Linked DNA regions of Homo sapiens. The protein of the gene in region 1 purifies or fractionates together with the protein of each later gene. This does not show direct contact. Each region holds a gene or a part of one and is shown in the gene's direction. Other genes may lie near its edges.

Region 1 (4,133 bases):
ACTGCCTGCAAGGGTGCCTTGCTCCCACCCTGCGGACACAGTGTGCCTGCTCTGTACTCTGCATATTTATGTCAGGAAGAGTACAAAAGTAAGATTGGGTAAGGGCTTCTCTACATCATGGGCTTTAAAAATTATAGATCTAGCCCTCATATAGCTGAGAAAACTCGACTTTTAAGGAACATGAAGCATTCTAAACAAATGTAGGTTATAAATGGGTTTGTCGCGTAGGCCCTGGAAGCCTCGTTTCCTTGGAGTACCTCAGTTATGTCGTTTGTCCGGGGAAATGGGAAAGACCTGAGGAGGGGCTGAGGAGCAAGGGAGCATCTGGAGCCACAGCCCATAGAAAACCAATAAAAGAAGCTCAAACAGCAGAAGAAAGCATGCGATTCTAGTGCCAGGAAGCATAGGGAGCTGGTACGTTGAGTGCTGAGTGGCTTCCTGGTGGCGAGCTTGCTGTCCACATATAATCCAAGGCAGGAAGACTTTCTGAACAAGGTCCTTAGAGTCCCCCGCTCCACATGGATTGGGCGATGAACCCGGAGATCTGAAACTGCCCTCACACATGTGCTTCTCTTGGCCCCGCAGCCTGGCCGGGGTCTCCAGGAGCGTGACACTGGTGATCGCATACATCATGACCGTCACTGACTTTGGCTGGGAGGATGCCCTGCACACCGTGCGTGCTGGGAGATCCTGTGCCAACCCCAACGTGGGCTTCCAGAGACAGCTCCAGGAGTTTGAGAAGCATGAGGTCCATCAGGTAAGCAGTTCTTAGGGGACATCAGAGATGCAGGCAGGTGCCCCTGAACGGTGCCCACAGTCTTTCCGTACACAGCCAGCATCATGGCGTTTGGAGTTGAAAGGCCCACAGAGGACATCGGCTCCCAGGGCGCCCAGCTGCACCCCTTCAGAAGTCGTCACGATCCCTCGTGCACCTGTTGAAGCCACAGGCGCCTACCCTTTGTCATTCTCCTTGTGCCTGGTACTCCCTACTAGTTTGTTTCTCTCCCTTTGGGTGACGTACCATTTCCTTGGTCTGGCCTATTTTCATGTCCTAGGCCAGCACCTTGAAGGAGCAGTTCCTTCTCTTGCTTGACCCTGGCTGGCCAACCACAGAGCTCTGATTTCCCACTGCTGTTTGTTTCCCTGGTTATGTGTGGCACCATCTCTGTGGTGAAGTCACAGGTGCAAGCCCACGTGGATGCAGACGTGCACATGTGTGTGACGTTTCGGGTTTGTTTCCATCCTCTCCAGTATCGGCAGTGGCTGAAGGAAGAATATGGAGAGAGCCCTTTGCAGGATGCAGAAGAAGCCAAAAACATTCTGGGTAAATATAAGGAGCAAGGGCGCACAGAGCCCCAGCCCGGCGCCAGGCGGTGGAGCAGTTTTCCGGCACTGGCTCCGCTGACCTACGATAATTATACGACGGAGACCTAACGCAAGCGACCTGCTGCCTTCCTTCCCACTGCTTGTCTTCAGTGTGCCCGGCTGGGCAGGGGTGCGGTGGTGGTGGCCGATGAGGACAGGAAAGGGAGATAGCCAGGGCGAGGTGGGGCGAGGGCTCCTTCCCCCAAGCAACACCGCCCAGCCCTGCTCCAGGCCCCTGCACTCCGCCCACCCCTACCCTGGCTGCACCTGAGCTTGCTGCCCCTGGGGATGTTGCCCAGTGGCTGTGCACTGCTCTGTGCACGTGCGTGTGTGTGAGTGCACTTGTGTGTGGGTGACTAAGTGGATGCATGTGTGTGCCTGTGTGAGTGAGGGTATGTGCACCTAAGTGTGTACATGTGTGTATGTTGTGAAAGTGTCTGTGCACATGAATGTTTGTGTGTGTGTGAACTCTTTCTTACTGCTGGAAGTCACAGAATTCATATTGCTGCCCGGGTTGGTGTGGCCACCTTTCCCTTTGTCCAAGACTCCACATGGAAGGCATTTGAGCTCGACCTCCGAAAAGCTACCCAGCAAAGAGCAGTCTGTGCCTCTGAGCAGACCGTGAGAACTCAGGGGACGAGTGGCTAAGAGCATGGCCTCTCCCAGAACCCACCCAGGGTGGTGTGGTGGGGGCAACAGGGGCCAGACTCCTCTAGAGGGAGGGTGGCTCTGGGGCCCTGGAAAACGTGAGAGACTGCCCTGAGCTGGTCCAGTGGGCCAGCACTTTATACCAACTCAGCATTTAAGGGAAGTATCTTAGATTGCCTCCATCTCAATGTGAATGCACCAGGCTGAGGGTTCCCTAGCGCCTTGAGTCAAGGCCACTTTTCAGCCCATCGAGCCCTGAGTTCTACTTGGTGTTTGTTCTCTGGAGCTGATTGCACTTGAGCTCTGTGGTGGGCAGGCGCACTTTAGCCTAAGTTGGGTGCCCCAGGGCACCCCCTCCTCTCTGCTCCTTGCCAGCTTCATTCACTCCCAGCCTCTCGCTGTCCTCACTTTGCAGGGGCTCCTCCTCAACATTTGCATGCACCTGCAAGAATTGGGAAGAAAGAGCATTTATTAGGCACTGTAGCAATTTGCATTTTAAAATGCCTGAGCATTTATTAAGCTTCTTGGTATTCACTTGGGTTTGATAATTGATCTGAGCTACCTCATTGAATGTTTTTGGAAAGGTGTTTTTTGGTATGCAAGTCAGCTTTGCCTCACAGTTGAAAATGTTCGGTCATGATTGCTTTTGAAACCAAAGGGGAAGGTACCGATATCATTGAGCTATTTAAAGTTGCCAGTTTGGGCTCCAGTAATGCTTTCTGGTGGGTAAAATTCCACATTCAGGCCACGAGAGCATCTACAGTTTGTACTCTGGGGCTGCAGGCATCCTGGGACGCTGTACGCAATTCAGTGGTCTAGTCCTTTATACCGACTCAGATTCCTTAAGCATGCAGAGTCACTCGAATGAAAAAACATACTCGACCTCTCCCTAAAAAGATGTTGCAACCCAGTTTCTCTGAATTCCACCACAAAAAGAGACCCTGAATAAGAAGAGCAGTTTTCCTGTGCATATAGAGGGTGTGTCAAAGGTGAGCTTTTTGGGGACCGGGAAAAACAAAGTTGCCTGATTCCGCGCAGGTGCACAGGCCCCGGATGTACACCCGGAAAGGGGAGTGTGGCTGTAGAATCATCCATCCGTCTACAGCTAAAACAATTTGCCAATAAAGTACATGTTTTTCCTAAGCCAAAAATAAATACGTTAACAGAAAAATGATTTAGGATATAGCTTGAATGCTTAAATATGTGCACCTTTACAAACCTCTCAGTGTATTCTTGGAGTTCTTGAAATGTTGTTTTAATATTTGTTGCCAGTAATGTTCTTTCTTCACAGCCGCTCCGGGAATTCTGAAGTTCTGGGCCTTTCTCAGAAGACTGTAATGTACCTGAAGTTTCTGAAATATTGCAAACCCACAGAGTTTAGGCTGGTGCTGCCAAAAAGAAAAGCAACATAGAGTTTAAGTATCCAGTAGTGATTTGTAAACTTGTTTTTCATTTGAAGCTGAATATATACGTAGTCATGTTTATGTTGAGAACTAAGGATATTCTTTAGCAAGAGAAAATATTTTCCCCTTATCCCCACTGCTGTGGAGGTTTCTGTACCTCGCTTGGATGCCTGTAAGGATCCCGGGAGCCTTGCCGCACTGCCTTGTGGGTGGCTTGGCGCTCGTGATTGCTTCCTGTGAACGCCTCCCAAGGACGAGCCCAGTGTAGTTGTGTGGCGTGAACTCTGCCCGTGTGTTCTCAAATTCCCCAGCTTGGGAAATAGCCCTTGGTGTGGGTTTTATCTCTGGTTTGTGTTCTCCGTGGTGGAATTGACCGAAAGCTCTATGTTTTCGTTAATAAAGGGCAACTTAGCCAAGTTTAAGGTCGCGTGCGATGCATTCTTCCCTAGCCAAGGGGCAGTCACCACGCGCCCTTCTGCCTGTGAGGGATTCCAAGGCAAGACTGAAGCCTACTCCTGGTTTTATTTTAGAGGCTATTGTTTGCCTCCAGAAGGCGCTATAGCAGATGCTACAAAAGGTGAATTCATGTCTCCAAGAAAGAAAAATAGGCCATGAGTGTGAGGCGAAGGAAATGTGGACATGAGAGTTAGTTCTGTTTTGCCTGCACGGTGGGAGCGGCGTATTCGGCACCTGGAACGAGTTGTGTTTGCCCAGGAG
Region 2 (3,074 bases), on another chromosome or scaffold:
TAGAATTCATTAAAACCATCGATGACCGAAAGTGACCAAGACCAAGGCCCACCAAGGCAGCAGACTGTTAATCAGACAAACAGATCTCTGAGAAGGTGCATCAGCTGCTTTGAAGGCTGAAGATTGTTTTGTATGATACTGCACAGCATCAGGCATTTTAAAGCAGATCTTTACTAAACAGGTTAATGAGCTAACAAGCAGGTTCTCTCGTCTTTGGGCTCTTTCCTTTCTGAGTTGCATATTCTATTTTCTTGTCCCCAAGTAGAGACTAGTACTACAAAAAGGGACCACATTTTTCAAGTATTTCTAAGTATAAAAAACAAAACAAAAATCTCTTAGGAAATGTCTAGACCTCCATTCTTGGATTCCCTTTCTTTCCTTTTATTTTAAAAAAGAACAGTACCCCTCTTTTAAGATGCTGTCTTACATTAATGAGCATCTAATGGAAAGAAGGTATGAGTTGCACTGAGGATTAGAATAGTGGTGCGTTAGTGGCATTATCTATAAATACACTCACCTAAATTGAAAGCTAAGAAGGAAATGTAAATATAATATATATTTATATTTGATGTAATATGGACATCTGCAGATTCTAATAAACAAGGACTATTGCTGATAGTAGGCTGTGACATACTGTCTTGTGAAATGGTTTCCTTGACAAAATTTAAGCTGAGCTTAAAAGCAAAAAACAAAAAGTACACAGAAATATTTATTAAAATGTAATACAGTTTATTGAACTTTCTAGGTATGGAGTTTGATGGACAGGGCTGCCTTTAATGAGTGTGAAGGTCACTAAGTCACTTAGACATCTCACCGTGGAAGTTTGTGAGCCTGCATTAGGAGATAGACTGATTACCATACATGACATAAAAAGGAACAGTGGATAGCTCATACTTTATGGTGGTTCTTCTCCTCCGAAATAATATACTGCAGAAATCCCAGACAGAGCTCCTTACAAACCTTTAATTGTAATATATTTTTGATGATTATTCACATTGAATGCACAGACCAAGAATTCAGTGAATGTCATTTTTTAAAAAACTAATTTGTATTGTCTGCTCTAGTGATACAAGTTTTACTAGTGATAAACTATTTTAATCAACCATACTATTCTTATGGAAAAAAATATCTATTTTGGCAGGTTTCTGTGCCTTTATTTCCCTCTTCTGAAAAAAAGTCTGTGTTTTCATAGTTTGGTTTGCATTGTATATCAATAATTAATCAGGAATGGGTTTTGGTGCCTGAAAAATTGGCCATGGAGGCACACCAAAGCTTCAAGCACAAGTCTTGTACATGGGCCATCACTGTCTGGTTTCACTTCGTGTGTTTCCTAAACACATTTAGCTGCTTTTTTAACAAACTCAGCCCCATACTTGAGTCCCTTGTTGTTGGGAGCATTTCCAGGCATCTTTTAAGGGAACTGTGACAAACAGCCTCGGGCAGATGAACACGGAGGCTCTCTGTTGTCTGTCTCTGAGATCTTTGTGTCTGGGAATGCCTAAAGATTTTATTTTTTTTTCTTTGTTTTTATTTTATTTTATTTTATTTTTTTGAGACAGAGTCTCACCCTGTTGCCCAGGCTGGAGTGCAATGGTGCGATCTTGGCTCACTGCAACCTCCACCTCCCAGTTCAAGTGATTCCCCTGCCTCAGCCTCGCGAGTAGCTAGGACTACAGGCGCATGTCACCAAGCCCGGCTAATTTTTGTATTTTTAGTAGAAACGGGGTTTCACCATGTTGGCCAGGATGATCCTCAATCTCCTGACCTCGTGATCCACCCGCCTTGGCCTCCCAAAGTGCGGGATTACAAGCGTGAACCACCCTGCCCAGCCAGAAACTAGATTTTCTTTATGCCTCCACCCCTTCTTATTCATTTACTTTACAATACCAAAATAACAAATTGCATAGGAGTGTGGGATGTGGTTTCTGCCTTCTAGAGAGAGATCAGAATTAAACTAGTACTATGAAATGTCCTTTTGAATGTTAGGTCAAGAAATCCATGTACAGAGTCGTGCACTTCATTGGCTGTAACTGTCAAACTTGCCTTGTATTAGAAGTTAAATCCCATCGTAAATACATCACGAGGCCAGCTGTGTGATTTCTGAGACCTAGATGAGAGTCCATTTACTTCAGCCTTTGATTCAGTAAATGTTAAGCAGCAGAAGACTTCGAATGGTTGAAATTCATTGTTACAGGATTTAACTCATAAACCAATGAGAGATTTTTTTTTTCTCTGCAATGGTTGCTAAGTCTATTCCATGTTAACACTGTGGAAATAAATATGAAGATGTGGACATTGCATCGGGGCTCTTTTCTGTGGAAGAGAAGGTGGTGGGATTGGGGTGAAGGGCTACACTGGAGGCAGGAGATAGGGCTGTGCTGTGTTGGAGCCGGGGCTGAGGGTAGACCCCCCAGAGATTTGACATCTGTGACACCTGTGAAATGGGTTCGGGTGCTCATGACTCCATAGCTGGCGGAGGAGCACAGCACAGCTGTTGCAGGGGCAGCTAAGGTTTCCTCTGAAAATCTGTCAGGAGCAAGGACTACTTTGGCATTAACCATCACTGTTTGATTTCTTGACAGGTATGTGAGATGGGGAGTGATTTGATTTTTTTTTTTTTTTTTAATAGAAAAGAGGAATAGTTGTTCCCCAAATGTTTCTTCCTCCACTGCCTTCCAGTACTTTCTTTACATGAAAGATTAGTGTAAAAGTACAAAATCAGCCCAGGAAACATTCAGCAGCCACTAGTTACTACATAGAATTTATAAAGTGGATGTTAAATGGAGAGAGAGTTGGCTCAGGTCCCCTGAAATCTTGTAGGATTAACTTCTCTGAGGAAAAGAAAAATCAGGTTTGCATTTTGTATTAATATTCTGCTTTTAGAAGTAATAGAAATACAAGTTGAAGATTGTCTTTACTTACAAAATTATATTTTAATTTTTTTTGAGACATAGTCTTGCTCTGTCACCCAGTCTGGAGTGCAGTGCTGTGATCTCGGCTCACTGTAACCACCATCTCCCAGTCTCTAGTGATTCTCATGGCTCAGCCTCCCTGGTTGCTCAGATTACAAGTGT
Region 3 (4,133 bases), on another chromosome or scaffold:
CTTTATGCTTTTAAACTATCATCTTATTTCAGGCTTTGGACTATAATGTAAAATTTTATGAATAGCTGCTATTCAGAAAAATCATTTTGTATTTCTATGTCCCATATTCCTCTTTTTACCTGTTTGTTCACTGAAGTACTGTTATATAACTTCAAGTAAAATTTACTTTTCTGTCTCTTTTTTATCTTTTCTAGTGGACAGTTTCATAAAGCATAACATGAGTAGAAGAATCTACTGCCAATAACTGTTTATTATCTGCAATCAAGTGGGCTTCATCAATTTAATTTCTTCTCTTTGAGTAAATGAAGATTCAGACTTTGTAATATTATTGCCCTTAAGTGCAATGCTAAAAAAACGTTGATTTTCAAGCTTAGAGAATGGCTAGACTTTTCATTAAATACTGATTTTCCTACATTTGCTCTTCTGCAGTTAGTGGGTGATTTGCTATTTTTCTTAGTAGTTAAAAAATGGAACTAAATAGTGAATATACATACACTGCATGTAAACATTCTGCATATACCTCTAAGATTAAAATTCGCAGTTGTCTTTTCATCCTTTATAAAATGATCTAACTACTTATATTTGTGCTGCATCGCGTTACATCTGTTTTTATTTCACTATGAAGATGTTTGATTAAACTTATGGACTTAGTGCCTTTAAACTGATCATCAGGGAGAATCTTGAAAAAATCATTTGAAGGGCTGATGTGAAGGAGCACTGTAAATTTTTATAACTTAGTAATGAGTATTCTTAGGCAGATGTAAAATTTTTTCCAATTTATTTTTATTTATGTAGCTTATAAAATTAACATACCCTGTTTTACTTTATGATAAAGGATTTTTTGTTTGCTGAATTTAAAATTATATATTAGTGATACCATCAGAGGGCAGTGATGTTCTATTGTATATTAAATTCAGCTCTGTAAGGATCTTTGTAGTAATTGAATGAGTTAAACTAATAATCTGGATGGGTTATAATGAGTAGTAATATATTTGTCCATATTTCATAAGTAGTGTTAATCTTGTGTACTTATTAGAGAACGATCATAAGATTTATACAGATGTGAAACTGCGAAGGCAAGTATGAATGTATGAAAAAAACATGTAGGTACTGTACTTACAAAAGGTCTACTTCAGATATAAAAATATTAGGTAATTCTATACAATGCATAGTCATAAACCTTAACATTTTTGTTCATTAGAAACATGAATTTTATAGCATTTTTTGTTTCTCCTATATAATACACTGAAATAAAAGAATTTGTGTTAGCTATTAAGGCTGATAGCTCTTTTAAATGGCAAGGCCACATGTTGAGCCCTAAATTAAAATTTGCAGATATTAAGTGCTAATAGAAATTTTAAGTTAAATCGACCAAGTTCACTTGCTTTACACAAAGGAAACTGAGCCACTATCTTCATCTACCCCTCCAACAAAAATTATGTTATACTGCAGTGTATTGTACATGTTAATTTTTAAAAGTTTGAACTATTATATAATACAGGTCTCTTGACTTCTCATGGAAAAATTATTTTTTCTATTATGGTGTGAAATATTGTGTGAATATCTAGGCAAAACATAACAATTTGGCTCAATTTTCTTCTTTAGAGGATTCGTGCTGTTTTTGTTCATAAAGGGTAGTGAAATCATTGAACTATATTTTAGAATGAAAATTTTTGATTTTATTAAAATGATTTTTTCAAGGCAGAAAGTAAAAGGAATGATTGATAGCGGAGTGCATATAGAGCTAGAGCATATCATCCTTGAACTCTGCAAATCCTTTCTTCCATTTTAATATAGCAAGAACAATTTTGTCTTTACTACATCTTAAAGAATTAGAACTTGGGTTGGTGTAAGTGACTTACTTCCAGGGAATCATGCCCTATTTCTACCAGCAGGTCATACCCAAATGTCACACTATCTATTGTTAACCATGAATGATATTCAGATCTATTACTTTTCGTGAAAAGTGGAACATGTTACTTCCAACCATGGCCTGTCACCGTGAGTGTGATCAGCTTTCTCCAAAACCACATGGGTCGCAGGAGCTAAGGGGTGGTACCCAAATGTTAGGAACAGTGTTAGGAAAGGGCAAGGGAAAAGAAGTGACTGGATGTCTTATGAGAAACCGGTAAATGACTAAAAAAAAAAGCAAATGACTAAAAACATGACTAAAAAATTATATATATATATAATATATATATTATATATGTGTGTATATATATACACATAATATCTGCAAATTCTAATTTATATATGTGTGTGTATATACACACACACACATGCACATACACACATACGTCCAGACATCTCCCTCATAAAATAACCATCAGTTTCTATGAAAACCTTAAGTGGAAGCCAATTTCCCATAGTAAATAATTTAGGAGAAAATTATAATGCTTAAAATGTTGCTCAAACCCCTGACCTATTACTAAACTATAATTGGAACAGTAAAATGCATATATGTAACTATCATATCATGATTTAAAATTGCTTAAACCATTGCTGCTTAATACTAATCAAACTTAACGGCTGCTAACAAAAGTTGTGAATTATTACACGGCCTCTTTGTAACGTGCTGCATGTTTTTTAAAACATCTCTGTGTTTCTGTTTGTTCCACTGCTGGTATTTGGAATGTAATTTAACAGTTCTCACACATGGTTTGGTTATAAATTCTGTATTGCCTTTTAGGGATATAAATATACATTTTTTTCTATGTAAAAATTAGCTTTAGCTGTCTCTTTAACAAAATTTTATCTTTACTACATCCTAAATACTTAGAACCTGAGTTGGTGGTTAGGGAAACCTCAGGAACATTTTAATCACATTGGGATTCAGAAGAGCAACAGAACCAAAGGTTGTTTGGTGTGTTCATACAATCCCTGGATTTATAGGTGGATTTTCTATAAAGGAAAAATGATGTAATTAGTATCCTGTTTTTTCCTAAAGAAATAATACTATCATAAAAATTCTGTCTATCCTTTGTACCCCAGGAAAATGGACATGAACTTTGAATTTTCCCTTTCTCCAAATGTTTGACTTTTTATTTTCACTGATAAGCATTATGCTATGTTCTTAGAAGACAAAAGCAGCTCTTGCCAGTTTTGAATAATTTCTGCATGAATAGACCAGTAAGAGGTAAGTAGCCATGACTGCCTATATGTGTTGAGACATAAGGTATATTTCTTTAACATCTCCAAGCAAGCATTTCAAATTCTCTTAACTACTAAACATGCTCTAAGCTAATTCAAATATAGTATTGTGGCTTTTTTCTTCAATTTTCTCAAAAGCTACAGACACAAGGCATTTGTATGTATAACAGACTTTGATGAAGTTTTGGTTCCAGTAACTCAAAACACTAAGTTTCCCATTTGATATGGCTTTTTATTGTTCTAGTCTCCCTCTTCTAGTTATGCTTCATCTTGCAAATATTGACTTTGAATGTGATAACTATTGCCTACAAATTAAGTATTCATACATTACTCCTGTGGATATCATACTTTTTTGTTATTATATCCTGAATTGCATTGGCTTTTTTTGGTTTTGTTTTGTTTTTTGAGATGGAGTTTCACTCTTGTTGCCCAGGTTGGAGTGCAATGGCACAATCTCAGCTCACCGCAACCTCTGCCTCCCAGGTTCAAGTGATTCTCCTGCCTCAGCCTCCCTAGTAGCTGGGATTGCAGGCATGTGCCACCACGCCTGACTAATTTTGTGTTTTTAGTAGAGACAGGGTTTCTCCACGTTGGTCAGGCTGGTCTCGAACTCCTGACCTCAGGTGATCCCTGCCGCCTTGGCCTCCCAAAGTGCTGGGATTACAGGCATGAGCCACCGCGCCCGGCCTGCATTGGCTATATTTATAATACCAAATTTGTGTTGAGTTTTGAGTTAATGTCTTCTAGTTATCAAAACAGGTTTGATCCATTCTTTGCAAGTACCTCTAACTTATCTCAAGTGGAACTAATTAGTTTTGCACACAGATTGGTGCTCTCTAGGCTATTTCCCTGAAATTTATCTTGTTACATAAGTCAGATATCAAGGAGTTATGCTAAACTCCTTTTCCTATCAAACTCCTAAAATGCCCTTTTCTCTGTCTATATTTCTTAGACATAGTTACATTATAAATGTAACAGATATA
Region 4 (4,133 bases), on another chromosome or scaffold:
CAAGTACACTGTATTTGTTTAAATCTTCTGTGAGAATGAGAAGCAGAATTCTTTTCTTTTGAATACTTTTTCACCAGCTCAAAGCCATAAAATGATGTATCTTTGAGAACGTTTTTGCACATTTTTAAAAATTTTCATTCAGTACACAGTAAGCAAGAGCTATTACAAAGAAATGTAGTCTCTTGCCAAATAAATGTGTTACTTTGACCTAATTGTTTTGTGTTCCCTAGTACGAACAAAATAAAATAAATGGAATTGCAGAAAACCCATAAGAATTACAGTGTTTGGCTGGGTGCAGTGGCTCACGCCTGTAATCCCAGCACTTTGGGAGGCTGAGGTGGGAGGATCACCTGAGGTCAGGAGTTCAAGACCAGCCTGGCCAACATGGTGAAACCCCGTCTCTACTAAAAATAAAAATTAAAAAAAAAAATAGCTGGGCGTGGTGACAGGTGCCTGTAATCCCAGCTACTTGGGAGGCTGAGGCAGGAGAATCACTTGAACCCAGGAGGCAGAGGTTGCAGTGAGCCGAGACCACACCATTGCGCTCCAGCCTGGGCAACAAAAGTGAAACTCCGTCTCAAAAAATAAAATAAAATTACAGTGCTGTATACTCTTTTCTCTTTAGAGAAGTAGAGGTGTATTATTGGCCTTCTGTTGCACTGGTAATAGTGGATTACTTACTTATTTGATTGCTTGTTTCTACCTGCATACATGGAATTCAATTTTAAGTGTAGGGCGAGGTTTGTTGCCTAAACAATAAGTAAGTAGCAATAGAAATTTATGAGATGTTTGTGGGGAATAAACAATTGCATGTATTCCTATTTAGTAAATGTTGCTGCACTGAGTTATCCAGAAAAAAAAAAAATGTGATTGCTAAAGAGAATTTTTTTTCTTTCTTTTTTTTTTTTTTTTTTTTTTAATAAGACAGAGTCTTGCTCTCTTGCTATGGCAGCGATCATAGCTTAGTGCAGCCTCAACCTCTTGGGCTTAAGGGATCTTCCTACCTCAGCCTCCCAAGTAGCTAGGACTACACGCACACCAGCAAGCCAGTTAATTTTTAATTTTTTTTGTAGAGACGGGGTCTCTGTGTTGCATAGGCTGGTCTCAAACTCCAGGCCCCAACCTCCCAAAGTGCTGGGATTACAGGTGTGAGCCACTGCGCCTGACCAAAAAGGAATTTTCTTTACCTGTTATTTTTTTGCTTAAGACTTTTATTCTGTGTTTTAGATTATGTGCTTTCATCCAATGTTTCCGAATTACTCATTTCTTTTGGGTTATACTGTGATTTTTTAACATCTTAGCAAATTTCTGTTTTTGAGTATTTGGTTGTAGTCAGTTAATATTGTTTAATATATTAAAATATCTCACTGCCTTCTGTTTGGCCGGCCCCCAGAAATCTAAACAGCATTTGTTATTTTTGCTGTTTTCAGTGTGATTCGTCATCGAGATGTTCGATCCTGTCACTATGGTGTAATAGACAAATTCCGTCTCCAAGTTTCCGAGCAAAGCCAAAGGAAGGCTTTGGGAAGAAAAGAGGTTGTTGCTACTCTTCTCCCATCAGCAAAAGAACAACAAAAGGAAGAAGAGGAAAAAAGATTAAAGGAACATTTAACTGAAAGTTTATTTTTTGAGCAGTCGTTTCAACCAGGTAGTTTTGGGTTGTTTTTAAAGCCCTTTTGAGGTCTTACACATTATTAACTTTAAAATAATCAGGCAGCTAAGAATAATTACTAGAAAAATCATCTACCACTTCAAACATGGTCAACTACTTCAAAACTGCACCTAGAGAATCAGGTACCTGAAGTAGAACAAGAAGCCTGGAGGTGGACTTTGAGAGGAGGGAATACCCCTCACTGGACCAGGCTGTAAGGAGCGGGTAGATGTTGCTGTAGCCTTTTAAATATATCTGTATTTAAACATAAACATAAATATATCTAAGACTGCAGGCACCATACTTTATGAAGCTAGTACAATTTGGCAGTTCCTATACTTTTGTTTCCATGACTTTCCTATATCCTTTCTCATTTAATTAGTTCCAAGGAAGAGAGAGATTGTGTTTGGCAATAGGCCAAGCTTAGTGCACTGTTCATATTATTTTGAAAAAAAAAAAAATCTCATTAAAGTTGAAGTTAATTAAACTAAGTAGATTATGATATCCCCTGTGGGCTATTAATTGAATCCCTCTCCAGCCCTCATTTCCTTCCAGCTTAGATATTCAGAAGTGTTATGATATATTCTTTCAACATTGACACTACCCTCATATTCAACTCTTTGGACGTCATTATCCCGTCTTCTTAACTTCTCATTATCTCCTCCTAAACCTGTTGTAATAGGAGGATGATAAAATTTTCCATAGAAAACCAGGGAAACTGGAAACTTTTTGATGGTGATACTGGTACATGAATATGATAGCAGCTGTCCTTGAAATTGCAACATTTTATGAAGGATTAAAAAAAATCTACTTGCTGTTACATTCAGTCGTATCAGTTTGTTTGTTTTAGGATGTTCATTTCAATAACAGGGAGTAGTGCCTCTTTGATTTACTGTAGCCAAGAGTTTTTTCCTAGTCCATTAGGGACCATCTAGATTTTCTGGTAATACCAGGACTAGTGACTAGGTAGTAGCTATTAGGTTGGTGCAAAAGCAATTGCGATTTTTGCCATTACTTTTAATTGCAAAATCCGCAATTACTTTTGCACCAACCTATAGTGGATTGTTTTATTCTCAGCAACTATTATCAACTGACAGGACCAGCTTTTCATCTTTTGAAGCTGAAAGAGAACCTTTGTCCAGTGTCACTTTATCAGATCAATATTGTAAAGTTAACATAGTTATGAAATGCAAGATTCCCTTTTTAAAATACTTCCTCTAGTACAAAGAAGGCCATTTAATTTGTATTTGTTTTTTGAAGTTACACTTGTAATTTAAAATGGTCTTTGAAGTTCAGTTTTGTATTTAACAGATTGGTTTAATAACCAAGAATAATAAGGAGTAAGATTTAGGGGTATATGTGTATGTAAATATATGTAAGGAGAACTTTATTCCTTTTATTTTTAAATTTATTAAAATTCAGGTGAAGATCATGCTAAAAAGGCTAAATAATTAAAGTATGTATTGTCTTATTTTATTTTTTATTTTTTGAGAAAGGGTTTCTCTCTATCGCCCAGGCTAGAGTGCAGTGGTGCCATCATAGTTCTCTGCAGCCTCCAACTCCTGGATTCAAGTAATCCTCCTGCCTCAGCCTCCCGAGTAGCTGGGACTACAGGTGCTCGTCACCACACCCAGGGTCTCGCTATGTTGCCCAGGCTCGTCTTACCTAGCCTCAAGCAATCCTCCTGCCTCAGCCTCCTAAAGTACTGGGATTACAGGCCTGAGCTCCCGCACCTGGCCTTATTTTAGTTTTCTAACAAACCTTGGTATCTAAAGTATATTAAAGAATTTTTCTAATAGTAAAATTGGAGTAGGCAGATGAATGAGGATAGGTGATGCTAGCATAACACATGGTGATCTCTGTTTTGAGGGAAAAAATTATCTAATCCATTCCTGTAAGGAAGCTCAATGAAGGCAGGCACTTTTCCTAGTAATTTTATATCCTCAGCACCTAGCACAGGGCCTGGCACAGAGAAGTTACATAATGAACTTGTAAATGGGCTGAGCTAGGAAGGCTGGACTTCAGGTCTGGTGAGGGTCTGTGGGAATGGTTTTTTTGTTTTGTTTTGTTTTGGCTTACAAGGTTTTCATGGCTATGACAGCTGTTTAGAGGAAAGGTGATACCACAGCAGAGCCCCATTCACAGTCCTGGCCAACATGTCCCGTTTATGGGTAGTTACCCCAATGTGCCTAATTACCTGGAAGTAAGTTGAGTAAAGTTTTCTTCTTTAATAGAGTATCATGATGACTGATTTAGTCTCCTGTCTATTAAATTTACAGGAATTTATGTGTAGTTTCCAACATGTGGAAAACTCAGGTTTTTAAGTTTTTCTGAACTAAAATGTTGAAAATTAATTGAGATTGTTTTGGGGAGGCTTTGAAATGTCATTACTTTTACAAGTCCTTAGCTTAGAGAATATTTCAACAAATGCGTATTATTAAAGTATTAGAGGTGCAGCAGTGTTGTGAGACTCACTTTTAGC
Region 5 (4,133 bases), on another chromosome or scaffold:
TTTTTGTATTTTTAGTAGAGATGGGGTTTCACCATGTCGGTCGGGTTGGTCTTGAACTCCTGGCCTCAAGTGATCTGCCTACCTCGGGCTCTCCAAGTGCTGGGATTACAGGCATGAGCCACTGCCCCTGGCCCAACTTTCTGTTAATCTTTATTGGATACTTTTTCACTGTGCTGACCCCATGTGAATACTATTCAGGAGGTATGACAGTACCATTATGGTTATAGCTGTGGACACTATTCTTTTATGCTCTGTACTCATAGCTCTTCACCTTTAGGAACTAGAGTAGATGTAAAGCATTTAAGAATTTTAAGGTTTGAGCTATTTCATGATCAACCTGAAAGGGCCATAACTTGTAGGTAATACGTATTTTTGTTTTGACTGTCATGTGGTAGAAGTTACCTGAAAAATGAAGCCAACCAACTCTTTTGCATTTCAACTGTTGGTTTATTTTTTTTGAGACGGAATTTCACTACGTGGCCCAGGTTGGAGTGCAGTGGTGTGATCTAGGTTGACTGCAACCTCTACTTCCCAGGTTCAGGCAGTTCTCCTGCCTCAGCCTCCTGAGTAGCTGGGATTACAGGCCCACACCACCAATCCCAGTGAACTTTTGTATTTTTAGTAGAGACAGGGTTTTGCCATCTTGGCCAGGCTGGTCTCAGACTCCTGACCTCAAGTGATCCACCTGCCTCGGCCTCCCAAAGTGCTGGAATTATAGGCGTGAACCTCCACGCCTGGCCTCAACTGTTTAATTTTTCACTTTACTGTTTATATCTCCTAACATGAGTTATTGTTCTGAAGCACTCAAAATTTTAATCTCTATTTGATTGTGTTCGAAGGTGGATATCATATGTTACACTCTTGATTTGTGGATTCTGGATTCATTAAGAATATCAAGATTTCTTCTGTAATTTGTGTGGTTCTTCCTAAATACAATAACTTGATTTACGAATTCCTGTTGCGCTGTGTGCGGTGGCTTGCATCTGTAATCCCAGCACTTTGGGAAGCTGAGGTGGGCAGATCGCTTGAGTCCAGGAGTTTGAGACCAGCCTGGCCAACATAGCAAAACCCCGTCTTTACAAAAAATACGAAAATTAACCGGGCATGGTGGCACACACCTGTAGTCCCAGCTACTGAGAAGGCTGAAATGGGAGAATTGCTTGAACTGAAGAGGCGGAGGTTACAGTGAGCCGAGACTGCACCACCACACTCCAGCCTGGGTGACAGTGAGAACCCTGTCTCAAAAACAAAACAAAACAAAGAATCCCTGTTGCCTCACCATACTTCATGCATCCTACCCCTATAGCACTTCTGATGAAATTGCGTGCCGTAGATTTAGCAATTTAGAGAATTCTAGCTTGTTTGTATGGGTTTAAAGTTTGCATGACATTTATGTTTCTATTGTTGGTCTAAAGTTAGCCCAGAGATTAGCAGGGAGCAGTAGGCTCAGAGAGTTGTCTTCCTTCTTTACTTGGTACTGCATCTCTAGGCTTGGTAGCTCTTCAGTAAATACTCTCAAAAAATACTTATTTTTAAGAAGACATTTATGTGATATTTATAAACAAATTAATCCTCAGTGGTTAGAATATGCAGTGAAATAGCAAGCAGACAATCCTTTTTTTCTCTTCTGAGAAAAGTGCTTCATACCACAGTTACAATTTTGTATGCACTAATCAAAAAATGTGTTATAAACTCTAAAGTTTAGATGATGGAACTGTACATGAAAATAACATTCCTCTTGCTGGTTCTGTGATTTTTGTACATTAGCTTAGAACAGTGGTCCTCAAAGAGCGTTCCCACTTCCAGAAGTAGCTGCATTAACTAGGAACTTGTTAAAATGTAGAATCCCGTGTTGAATCAAAACATTTGGGTGGGACCAACAATCTAGGTTTTAATAAGTTTTCCAGATGATTCTAATGGCATGTTACGTTTGAGTAGTTGATTTTACATTGGTACTAACATTGATTCACCCATACATGGAATAATTGGGGGGTTTTTTTGAGGTGTGGTGTTTGTCAGATTTTTAAAAACATTGTTGACTGGGCGCGGTAGCTCATACCTGTAATCCCAACACTTTGGGAGGCTGAGGCGGGCGGATCACGAGGTCAGGAGTTCGAGACCAGCTTGCCAATGTGATGAAACCCTGTCTCTGCTAAAAATACAAAAATTAGCCAGGCATGGTGGCGTGCGCCTGTAGTCCCAGCTACTTGGGAGGCTGAGGCAGGAGATTCGCTTGAACCCAGGAGGCGGAGGAGGTTGTTGCAATGAGCCGAGATCATGCCATTGCACTCCAGCCTGGGTGTCTCAGCGAGACTCCGTCTTAAAAAAAAAATTGTTCATGCAACTAACCTAGTTTGAGAATTACATGTATTATGTACTGCTCACATTACATGTTATCTGTATCTCTTTATAGGAGAATGCCTTCCTGTTAGCCACCTGCCAGACATCTTTAGGAAAGTATGATCCCTCTGTCCAATCAAGAGTATTCTGCTTTTTCTCTACTTAGGGAGTACCCATAGTTTTCAGTCATCTGTACCACTGCTGCTCTCCTTTCTTGTCACAAATGATCAAGGCCTGATAATACACAAAATTAATTAAGAAATTTAGTGTAGGCCGGGCGCAGTGGCTCATGCCTGTAATCCCAGCACTTTGGGAGGGTGCCAGCACACTGGCAGATCACGAGGTCAGGAGTTCGAGACCAGCCTGGCCAACATGGTAAAAATACCAGAATTAGCTAGGCGTGGTGGTGGGTGCCTATAACCCCAGCTACTCAGGATGCTGAGGCAGGAGAAACATTTGAACCCAGGAAGCGGAGGTTGCAGTGAGCCGAGATCGCGCCATTGCACTCCAGCCTGGGCGACAGGGCGAGACTCCGTCTCAAAAAAAAGGAAATTTAGTGCAATTATTAACTCTTAAGTGAAGTGCTGTTTCTACTTACATATTTAACATCCATCTAAATTGGTTAGCATGGCCAACTAGTTGTTTTTAGTCTAAAACAACCTGTAACAGGAATAAAAGTTACTGTTAAAATGAAGAAAAACAAGGCTTATTTCAAAGTTATTATTAACATACTATTTTACCTAACAATTTATGGCCAAGTCATTCTAAAGAATAAACTATTGTGGTTAAGAGAGACTGTATCCAGATTGAAGTTTTTACCACAATGCCTGGCACAGTAAAAGGTTTATTAAATTATAGCTATTACAGTTACCATCACCACTGTTAACTTTTGGCTGAATCGTTTTGTCATTGTTGATATTTTTGTTGTTTGGTCATGACATACTATTATCTTGAGATGGTAGCTGTTACACCTAGTGCATAGCGTTTGATTTAGAAAATTTGAAGATTTGAAAAATTTTGTGTTTTTTTTCCTTTTTTTTTTTTTTTTTAAACAGCCTGCTCTGTTGCCCAGGCTGGTGTACAGTGGTGGCATCAAAGCTCACTGCAGCCTTGACGTGGCCTCAAGTGGTCCTCCCAGGTAGCTGGGACTGACTATAGGCATGCACCCCACACTTGGCTAATTTTTTATTTTTTTGTAGGGACAGATCTCACTGTTGGTGCCTAAGCTGGTCTCAAACTCCTGGGCTACAGCAGTCCTCCCACCTCAGCCTCCCAAGGTGCTGGGATGAAAGGTGTAAGCCACTGTGCCCAGCCCAACTGTGTTATTTGTGGAAGTTTCTCAGAGGGAGAAATTACAGGGCTAAAGTACTACACGTGTGCATATATTAAAGTTTTTTCCAGTAACTACTTAATAATGTGTACTTGAAAACTGCTAAATTCTTAAATGTCCTCACCATTAAAAAATAGTAAGTGCCGGGTGCATGGCTCATGCCTGTAATCCCAACACTTTGGGAGGCCAAAGTGGTCAGATCGCTTGAGACCAGCCTGGCCAACATGGCCAAACCCCATCCTTACTAAAAAAAAAAAAAAAAGCAAACATTAGCTGGGCGTGGTCGCGCATGCCTGTAATTCCAGCTACTCGGGAGGCTGAGGCATGAGTATTGCTTGAACCTGGGAGGCAGAGGTTGCAGTGAGCCCAGATAGCGCCACTGCATTCCAGCCTGAGCAACAGAGTGAGACTCTGTCGCGGAGGTTGCAGTGAGCTGAGATAGCACCACTGCACTCCAGCCTGA
Region 6 (4,133 bases), on another chromosome or scaffold:
GTATGAAGGGGAATTTATTAAGGAGGACTGACTCACATGATCATTAGGTGAAGTTTCACAATAGGCCGTCTGCAAGCTGAGGGGCAAGGAAGCCAGTCCGAGTCCCAGAACCTCAAAAGTAGGGAAGTCAACAGTGCAGTCTTCAGTCTATAGCTGAAGGCCCATGAGCCCCTGGCAAACTACTGGTCTAAGTCCAAGAGTCTGAAAGCTGAAGAACATGGAGTCCGATATTCGAGGGCAGGAAGCATCCAGCATGGGAGACAGATGAAGGCCAGAAAGCTCAGCAAGTCTGCTCTTTCCACCTTCTTCTGCCTGCTTTATTCTAGCTGTGCTGATAGCTGATTAGATGGGGCCCACCCAGATTAAGTGTGGGTCTGCCTCTCCCAGTCCACTGACTCAAATGTTAATCTCCTTTGTCAGCACCCTCACAGACACAGCCAGGAATAATACTTTGCATTCTTCAGTTCAATCAAGTAGACGCTCAGTATTAACCATCACAGATGGGAAGCCAATGGGAGCAGAGTTAGAGATGCATGTGACTCTTTTTGGAGCTAGGCTGGTGTGTTTGAGGCTTCCTAATTAATTTAGTCCATTGCTTGCATTAGCGCACAGTTTGACTTAACCTGCCGTGCAGACACCAACTTAAAAGGTGTATGGCTTAAAAAAGAAAATGTTTCTCGAAGTCTACCAGTTTTAAAATTCATAAAATGTGAGGTTGGATTAATGTGATCTGTAAAATCTTTTTCAGAACTGGCACCTTGTAATTTACAGGAACTGTTAAAGATGGGTGGAATAGATTCCAAAGCTAAGATTTGAAACTTAAACTAAATTTGAAATTTAAGATTGGAATTTGAGGCCCGGTGCAGTGGCTCATGCCTGTAATCCTAGCACTTTGGGCAATCAAGGTGGGAGGATTGCTTAAGCCCAGGAGTTGGAGAGCAGCCTGGGCAACATGGTGAAACCCCATCTCAAGAAAAAATACAAAAATTAACCAGGCATGGTGGTATGCACCTGTATTCCGAGCTACTCAGGAGGCTGAGGTGTGAGGATCACTTGAGCCCAGGAGGCAGAGGTTGCAGTGAGCCGAGATTGCATCACTGCACTCCAGCTTGGGCAACGAAGTGAGACTGTATCTGAAACAAAAAAAAAAAAAAAAAAAGATTTGAATTTTATGATTTTTTTGCCCTCCTTTCTCTGTTTTTGAAAATTTTTTTAAACCCATTTTCTCTTCAGGAATATTACTGTATTTTAATTAGGTATTAGACAACATTTTTGTAGCAATACTATCACACCAATACAAACCTATCTTCTTTTTTTCTCTAGGCCCTGCAGGAGCAGCCAAAGATGTGTAAGTATTGAATATTAATGATTTTATAAGCTGTCTTTCTGAGGAAGTTGCTGTTTTTCATGATTATGACCTTTAGATCTCTGTGGGTATGGCTGAAAAGACATGGAAATACTTTGTGTATAATGCACATGTCAAGATGATCGTTGTAACTAAAGTGCTATTCAGAGAGGGTTCTTTGTGCTTTTCATTAGCTTTTCAGTTGCCTGGGCACTTTAACTCAGGATCTTAAGAAGGGGAAATGTTGAATTGTGTTTTCCATCCCAACTGGTATAGAGATTTTTTTTTTCTTTTAGTTAAAAGCAAGTGATTATAGGAGAAATAAGCATGTAGCTCCTATGACTACGCAGTGTTTTAGAGTTAGCTGGGGAGGAAAGGCTGGGGCCAAGCAGTTACCAAGTGTACATTGAATTGTTTTAAAGTTGATAACTAGATATTCGAATGAATATATAGGGCCATTCAACATAGTCACCATTGAGCTATCTTTAGAGCACAGGGCATTTAATAATGGGCATCTCCCTGTGGAGAGATCTGGAGCTCAGGAGCATTCAGGATTTCCATGCCCCTTCTCTCTGCATCCTCCTGCCTCTAATCTAGCTATAGCAAGGACACTACAGCAGTTCACTCTTTAAGAGTATTTCTGGTTACCCAGTGAAGGGTGGGATCAACTCTCCCACCCAAAACTGGGTTGGGTGTCAAGACTGATTCACCACATCTCAGGAGGGTGTGGAAAGATGTATTGCTCACATGAGGCTTTCTGGGGAGAGCAGGGCAGCCATCCAAACGGGTCTAGTTTTTATTTTGGTTGGAGAGTGGGCTGGGGTGAGGCTACTTATGAATGGGCAGAGGTTTGATCTTCCTGCTGGCACAGGGAAGAAGTGCCCCCACTTTCTTATTGGCTTACACAGATGTGGGGCAAAAGGGGAGTGATGGGGCTCAAAAGCCTTCAATGGTCAAATACCAAAAATAGGGCCAGGTATGGTGGCGCATGCCTGTAATCCCAGCACTTTGGGAGGCTGAGGCGGGTGGATCACTTGAGGTCAGGAGTTCAAGACCAACCTGGCCAACATGGTGAAACCCTGTCTCTACTAAAAATACAAAAAATTAGCCAGGCATGGTGGTGGGCCCCTGTAATCCCAGCTACTTGGGAGGCTGAGGCAGGAGGATTGCTTGAACTGGGAAGGTGGAGGTTGCAGTGAGCCGAGATCACACCACTGCACTCCAGCCTGGGTGACAGAGCCAGACTCTGTCTCAAAAAAAAGAAAAAAAAGAGTCAGACTTTCTTATTTCTTATTACAAAGAATTTAGAGAAGATGAGAATGGGATTGTAAAGCTTTCTGGGAATTAAATATTTAAATATGCATTTTAAAATTAGGACTTTAGATACAAAGGAAGCAGTAATTGATGGCTTCTAGCTCCTGTTTGCTGTGTTGGAGTTTATTACGTAAACATTTAGCAACAGTGAATACTGCACCCTGACCGTATTCCTATTATTGCAATATTTTGGTTTCTCCTTCAGTCTCTCCCTTCAATTTCTATATGTGTTGCCAGATTAATTTTCCTCAAGCACTGCCCTGCACTTGCATAGGACCTCTGCTCAAAACCTTTCAATTATTCCCATCGTCCTCTGGACTGAACCCAGGATTTATTAGGAATAGGAAGAGCATTTATGTTTTAGCCTCAAACCGACTGGCTCGCATGGCGTGGGAGGAGATGCTACAGTGGAGAGTGAGCAGAGCCCAGGGCTGGGAGGGCTGTGCAGAGCTTCTTCAGGCCACTGTTCTCAGGGGCTTCTGCGACCTCATGCTTCTTGCTCCTGTCCTTGTGTTTTGCTGTGCCCACTGCCTGGAGTGGCCCTTTCCCTTTCCCTTTCTGTTTATAGAAATGACATCTGTTCTGTAGGGCATGTGTGTTATCCTTTGTGAGAAGTATTTCCTGGCTCTCTGAGCTGCATAGTGTGTCTTTCTCCTCAGAACCTTCACAGCATTTTGGACCTTTCTTGTGGGGCATCGTGTTGGGTTTATATCGTAGTTCTTCATGTTCTTGTCTTTTTTCCCTTGAGGATTGAGAGTGGGGCAATACCTTACCCATTTTATTGTGCTCTAGAGTTATTCATGTCATGCTTTGATCATAGTTTGTGTTGAATAAATAGTTGTTGAATCAGTTCCATCATTGCTTTTCAAGGACAGAGTGATTTCATGACATCTTTCTTTTTCTAATAAAATTTAGTGATGATTTTGTCAACAGAATTAACCGTTCCAGGATGCGAGATGCCATTTAACTACTTAACTATTTCACTATTTAGAATCCTGAATTCTTCAGATTTCCCTTGACTATACCTCATTCTATGTCCTATAACTTTAAAATAAAGTAATTTATTAAATAAATGACCTTTTAAAAACAAATGCAGTGGATTTACCTGGAAAAAGTTAAAGAACATTATAATATTACTTTTCCTTACACAAAAGGTATATTCAGGCACGTTCAATTTTTTAAGTGGAAGCTATAGATTTATAAATCTTGACTGTAATATTAGGTGATGCCATGAATGAATGACGAGCTAAGAAATTAAGATGACACTTAATTTTTTTATTATGCACATTAAAATTTTTTTTTAAAATCTAAACAGACTGATTCCCAAACCAGAAGGATTGGCCAAAATAGTAGAATAAGTACTGAGAGTAAAGAACTTAGAATAGGGCAAACACAATATTATGCAGACCACAGGAAAGTCTTTGTGGGAAAATGGTTGTTATTTTTGGAAGCCAGAAATACTATATATTTAAAA
Region 7 (4,718 bases), on another chromosome or scaffold:
TAAACCTAATAGGTCAGTATCAGTAATTCCCGTTAACGTAAGAGTTCAAATTTGCCCTAGTTTTAATCATTTAAAAATTTTTTATAATTTTTAAATGATAACAATTATGATGCAACCATGACTTTGAGAAGCCAAGAGATCTTATTCTCAAATTGTAAATGAATCCGTAAGAGCTAAGAGAGAAGAAACAGGCTATTAAATGGCCAAAGATCAAATCTGAAATGTCCAGGAGTTTTCCTGTAGGGGTCACTGTTACTGTCAATTTATGCCTGCAAGAAAACTAAAATAGTCACACATTAAAGCATGTATGCACATTTTTAATGTCTGATTCCTCTACATTTCTTAAACTGTAAAATAATAAGAACATGCAGCCAGATAGCATCGCGATACCAACTTCTTTATATAATGACACGTACCATTCCACTCAATGTGCTCCTCAGTTTGAATTTATAAAATATATGCTACTCAAATGAAAGGCACTTATGCCTGCTCTTAGTAGAGGAAGCGCTAGCTAATTGCCTAACGCCCCATTAGCATATGGCCTATACTGACTTGAGAAGGAAAGAACGTTCATTGCTGTGGCCAATAGGATCCCCTCTCCCCACCTTCCCTTTTCTGCATCAAAATCTACACAGACAAAAGTCAGATGTTGTAATATGCATTTTATCGTGTCACTTAAGTACTAAGAGGTGCTTTTAAAGTTTTTATTAATGCTGCTCAAACTTGACCCCGACGGTCCAGGATACAGGCCAAGGTGTCAGTGCGGACACAATCGCAAGGCGGCTGTTAGGCTTCAGGGCTGGGCAGGAAACTTGCCAGGTGCTACTAGGAACGTATCAGCCCTTTCTACAAAGCAGGTGTCTTTCCCATCATAAAATGCAAAGCAATCAGCCGTTCCCTTTCTCCCCAGCCCCCTCGTCCGGAGACCGAGAGGATATTTACCCTGGGCTCTTGCAGTTCTCTTATAACTGAACCCAGCGGCGGCTCCTTCTCCGAGCTCAGAGCCAGCAGGCTCAGGCCCAGCCACACTTTACAGGCAAATTGCCGAGCTGACCAAGGGCTTTGGCCAAGCCCGAGCTGGGCCGGGGCGTCCGGGAAGCGGAAGGAGCCAGTCTAGGAAATCCGGGTGTGCGTGGTGGTGAAGCTGGTGGGCAAGCTTCCACTTCAGGTCCGGGGCTTTGTGTCCCGCAACAGACGCTTGGCGCCGCTCCTCTTCCAGCCTGCTGCCGCCTTCTCCGAGCGAGTGAGTTGGCGAAACTCACTCACCTGTCGGAACCCGGTGCCTGGCGGCCAGACGCGCAGATTACAGCAAACCTTGGCCGGGACGCCCCAGCCAGGGAGGCAAGTGTGGGAGCTGCTCCTAGAGGTGCCAGCTCCCACCCCCAGCTCCGCGCCCCCTGCTCGTCCCCTTTCACTTCCAGGCGCCTTCGGCTTGGGGTGCCCAGAAGGGCAAGTCCAGCAGACGCCAGGGCTGCAGGTTCAAGATGCTCCGCCTCCTCCTGCCACTTAGAGCCACAAACGCTAGCGGGAACCTTTCCACTCAGTCTTAGTCTGCGGTCACTGCTGAGGTTTTCAGAACTTTCCAGGCAAAGGCCAGCCAGGTCCTTTGCCTCCAACCCACTCCGCGCCTACCTCCCGCCTGGGGACACCCCTAGGCCCAGGAGATCCTACTCTCCCCCGAGCACCGACGTTCCAACTCGTCTGCGCCCCCGACTGCTGTCCGGCTCCTGTGCCAAGGGGCGCGCGCATCTTCCCGGGGCCAGCAACGCTCCCAACTTCTCGACTCGCCCTCCTCCTCCCCAGAGCGAGAGTGGGGCGGGCTGAGCCCGGATCCGGGGTGCACTCGAGCGTTCCCAGCGCTCGGCATTCACCCCGCCTCAGAGCCGACTTTCGAAGGGGGATTGAGCCTCGGAGGTCCAGGCGTCTTACTCCAAAGCTCAAGTCGGCCCCCGTCTTTTCTTTCCACACCCCTGTGCCCGTCGCATGCTGGCCGGGTGAGCGGCCGGGCCGAGGATTCGGGTGCCCGGGGCCGCGTCGCCCCGTCGGGTACTGAGCTGAGCGCACCATGGCCGGCTGCTGCTGCCTGTCCGCGGAGGAGAAGGAGTCGCAGCGCATCAGCGCGGAGATCGAGCGACAGCTTCGTCGGGACAAGAAGGACGCGCGCCGTGAGCTTAAGCTGCTGCTGCTGGGTGAGTGGCTGCGTCTCCGACTCCAGTGAGCCGGGCGTTTTTCTTCCGAGCCCTCCCGGCCTCTCCACTGGCACCCGCGCGGCCCTGGAGCCCAGCGGGGTGCAGGGCGGCTTCGTCCTTCTCCCCCTCGGAGCTCACGGATGCCAGCAACTTGGGGCCTTAGGTGCCTGTTCTTTCCATCTCTGGCTGGGCGACTTGCAAAAGCAACACCTTCCCCTGCCCCAAAACAGGATAGGGACCTGTAACACTTAACCTCTTGACCGCTGTACCTTATGTGTTCCGGTGTGCCCCTCTCCTCAAAACCCCGTCCACTCCTCCGCCCGCAGCACACCCAGCTTGGGGTCTGTGGTGACCCACATCTTGGGTTCAGCGCTAGCTCTGACCCGTACGCTTTCAGTTCTAGATGAAGCATCTTGAGAATTTACCATGTGCCAGATCGTGCTAAGTTCTTAAGGGCATCACCACCTGGTGATGCGGGCAGGTGATATCGCTATTCTAGAGAATTAAAACATGGAGGCCTGGAGAACTGACCAACTTGCCCTGATTGAGAAAAGGCAAAGCCGATGCTAGGTCAGCTGTGGGGGTGAAGCCCATGCCGTTGCTGCTCCTCTGACCGTGAGCTCCTATGCCTGCCTCCCATGGGGGTCCCTCAGGCCTTTGTGTTTGCAGCGGACCCAAACCTCCCTTGCCCAGCTTGACTCAGTGTGTCCACGTCCTAGGATTCAGCTTGGCTGCCCTGGTGCCTCTGGCAGGTCTTCATCCAGCTCTTTTGGTGTCTCTGCAAAGGTCTGGGTAGGACATCCACTTTCAAACACAGAAAGAACACAGTTTAAGGTTTGCCCAAGTTATGCCATGAGGCAAGGATCCCATCTCAGACTTTCTAGAACGCTGTCAACACATTTGCTGTTTGAGGAATATTTTACCTTTTCTACCTTTCAGACCATGATATCAGCTGTCAATTTTTTTCTAGATAGCCACAAAGATTTCAACTTTTTTTCTTTCACCCCTTTTGAACAGGAATCTTCTCTTATACCATCTATTTATTCATCTTTATTCCTTGTATAGGAATCACCCTCCCAGAAAGCTTCAAGGAAAGAAAAAGTTGATCTAGTTAGTGTAATATAGAGAAGGCTCTCAGCCAGTATGGCCTTCAGACCTGGGCGGAAGAACCCCCTTATCCTTATCCCCTGGGTTTAAAGGGCCCAGTCTGGCCTTCTGGGGGTTGGGGGGGGGTGTGCCCCTCCCCACAGAGCTGGAAGTCTGTAGGTCCAAAGGGGCTTGCTACCCAGAGACCATGCTGCCCCCTCCCTCCCAAGACCTGGATGGAATGAATACCCAGCCCAAAGGGACCCATACCAGCTTCTAAGGCCTGAGCCCTAGAAAAGAAGGCAGACCTGATCCCTGGAGAGCTCACAAAGGGGCAGCTGTTTGCTGGGGCGTAAAAGTGCTTGGAAATGTGGGCTGGGTAGGAGTGGAGGGAGTCCCCGTGGGTGCCCAAGAGGCCCCCCTAGGAGAGAGGGAGCTTGGGTGGGGAAGGGAAGGGGCTCTGTTCATTGGCCAGGTCTGCTATTTCTGTGTCTGACCCATAACTTTGAAAAGTCTGAAAATTCTAAATTGTCCCTGGCCTTCTAGGCTGTTATAAAGCTACCTTTGTCAAGGGAGGAGGAATACGTGAGAATTTGCTAGCTTGATTAACACTAGAAAATAACTATGGGTGCGGGGCTTTGTACTTTTGCCCTGAACCCCACAAACCAGAGGGGTTTAGTTGCGTATGTAACTTTTTTCTTTATAAGGGCAGGCTGAACCCTATTTCATTTTGCAATGCTTTGATTTGTGTCAATGTATGAAGTACAGTGTCCAGAATATACCAGGAGCTTGACAAATGCTGGCTCTTTGTATGAAAAATTGTGTAGTCAGCTGAGCTGTACTGTATTGGTAATAAGCCTGTTTGATGTAAAATTCTCGCATTTACCCACAAACTAGGGGAGAAATGTTTGTAGGTAAATTGTTTGCTCTGAAAGTCACATTAATCAGGGTGACCCGAGGGTCTTCTTTATCTTCCCAGGCCATTGCTCCAACCCTCCTCCTACCACCTTGAGGCACTGTCTGACCTCTGGAAACTCCCATTTTCATCTTGCGGAGTTGTGACTAGCATATCCCCTTAGTGAAAACTTTCCTGTGAAAAATAGTTTCTAAACCACACAGAGCCGTTCAGAACTCCAAGGATGGACTTCAAAACCTCTGATTTATTTCAATCTGTAAAGTCCTGGGGCATAGCTCCATTTCTTCTCAAGGAAGAGCCAATGACTCAGAAGTGACAGGAATTAGGGGAGGATGTGCACCATTTTGTCTGAAGTCATGCAATTCGAGTGAAAAATTCACCCATCTCTCTAGTGGGTAGATTAGAGCATCCACTGCTCAGGTGCCTCAGTTAAAAACCTCACTTTGCAAATGGGAGTTTGGAATCCTTTTGTGGAGTATGGGATGACCCCCAAAGACACCATCTCTTTCACAATGAAGCATGCTTTT

What was found.
Region 2: the proteins of DUSP22 (region 1) and GAPVD1 purify together in Homo sapiens (affinity purification with mass spectrometry, with the first as the bait; one large-scale study listed by BioGRID). This does not show direct contact.
Region 3: the proteins of DUSP22 (region 1) and SVIP purify together in Homo sapiens (affinity purification with mass spectrometry; 2 studies listed by BioGRID and IntAct, with this or other methods). This does not show direct contact.
Region 4: the proteins of DUSP22 (region 1) and MOSPD1 purify together in Homo sapiens (affinity purification with mass spectrometry, with the first as the bait; one large-scale study listed by BioGRID). This does not show direct contact.
Region 5: the proteins of DUSP22 (region 1) and RAB5A purify together in Homo sapiens (affinity purification with mass spectrometry, with the first as the bait; one large-scale study listed by BioGRID). This does not show direct contact.
Region 6: the proteins of DUSP22 (region 1) and C12orf75 purify together in Homo sapiens (affinity purification with mass spectrometry; 2 studies listed by BioGRID and IntAct, with this or other methods). This does not show direct contact.
Region 7: the proteins of DUSP22 (region 1) and GNA14 purify together in Homo sapiens (affinity purification with mass spectrometry; 2 studies listed by BioGRID and IntAct, with this or other methods). This does not show direct contact.

What each region holds. Positions count from the first base shown.
Region 1 is NC_000006.12:347,518-351,650, forward strand, and holds the end of DUSP22 (dual specificity protein phosphatase 22), read left to right. Parts: intron 1-585; coding exon 586-757; intron 758-1,251; coding exon 1,252-1,434; 3' UTR 1,435-3,304; coding exon of another isoform or gene 3,305-3,351; 3' UTR 3,352-3,838; downstream 3,839-4,133. UniProt on the Homo sapiens protein: Dual specificity phosphatase; can dephosphorylate both phosphotyrosine and phosphoserine or phosphothreonine residues. Activates the JNK signaling pathway.
Region 2 is NC_000009.12:125,362,712-125,365,785, forward strand, and holds part of GAPVD1 (GTPase-activating protein and VPS9 domain-containing protein 1), read left to right. Parts: coding exon 1-35; 3' UTR 36-3,074. UniProt on the Homo sapiens protein: Acts both as a GTPase-activating protein (GAP) and a guanine nucleotide exchange factor (GEF), and participates in various processes such as endocytosis, insulin receptor internalization or LC2A4/GLUT4 trafficking.
Region 3 is NC_000011.10:22,819,195-22,823,327, reverse strand, and holds part of SVIP (small VCP/p97-interacting protein), read left to right. Parts: intron 1-194; coding exon 195-209; coding exon of another isoform or gene 210-216; 3' UTR 217-2,991; coding exon of another isoform or gene 2,992-3,012; 3' UTR 3,013-4,133. UniProt on the Homo sapiens protein: Negative regulator of the ER-associated degradation pathway (ERAD) of misfolded proteins. It competes with AMFR/gp78 for binding VCP/p97, and inhibits AMFR/gp78-VCP/p97 complex formation that is required for degradation of ERAD substrates.
Region 4 is NC_000023.11:134,894,332-134,898,464, reverse strand, and holds part of MOSPD1 (motile sperm domain-containing protein 1), read left to right. Parts: intron 1-1,430; coding exon 1,431-1,648; intron 1,649-4,133. UniProt on the Homo sapiens protein: Plays a role in differentiation and/or proliferation of mesenchymal stem cells. Proposed to be involved in epithelial-to-mesenchymal transition (EMT).
Region 5 is NC_000003.12:19,953,575-19,957,707, forward strand, and holds part of RAB5A (ras-related protein Rab-5A), read left to right. Parts: intron 1-4,133. UniProt on the Homo sapiens protein: The small GTPases Rab are key regulators of intracellular membrane trafficking, from the formation of transport vesicles to their fusion with membranes.
Region 6 is NC_000012.12:105,347,279-105,351,411, forward strand, and holds part of C12orf75 (overexpressed in colon carcinoma 1 protein), read left to right. Parts: intron 1-1,323; coding exon 1,324-1,348; intron 1,349-4,133.
Region 7 is NC_000009.12:77,645,141-77,649,858, reverse strand, and holds the start of GNA14 (guanine nucleotide-binding protein subunit alpha-14), read left to right. Parts: upstream 1-1,536; 5' UTR 1,537-2,065; coding exon 2,066-2,189; intron 2,190-4,718. UniProt on the Homo sapiens protein: Guanine nucleotide-binding proteins (G proteins) are involved as modulators or transducers in various transmembrane signaling systems.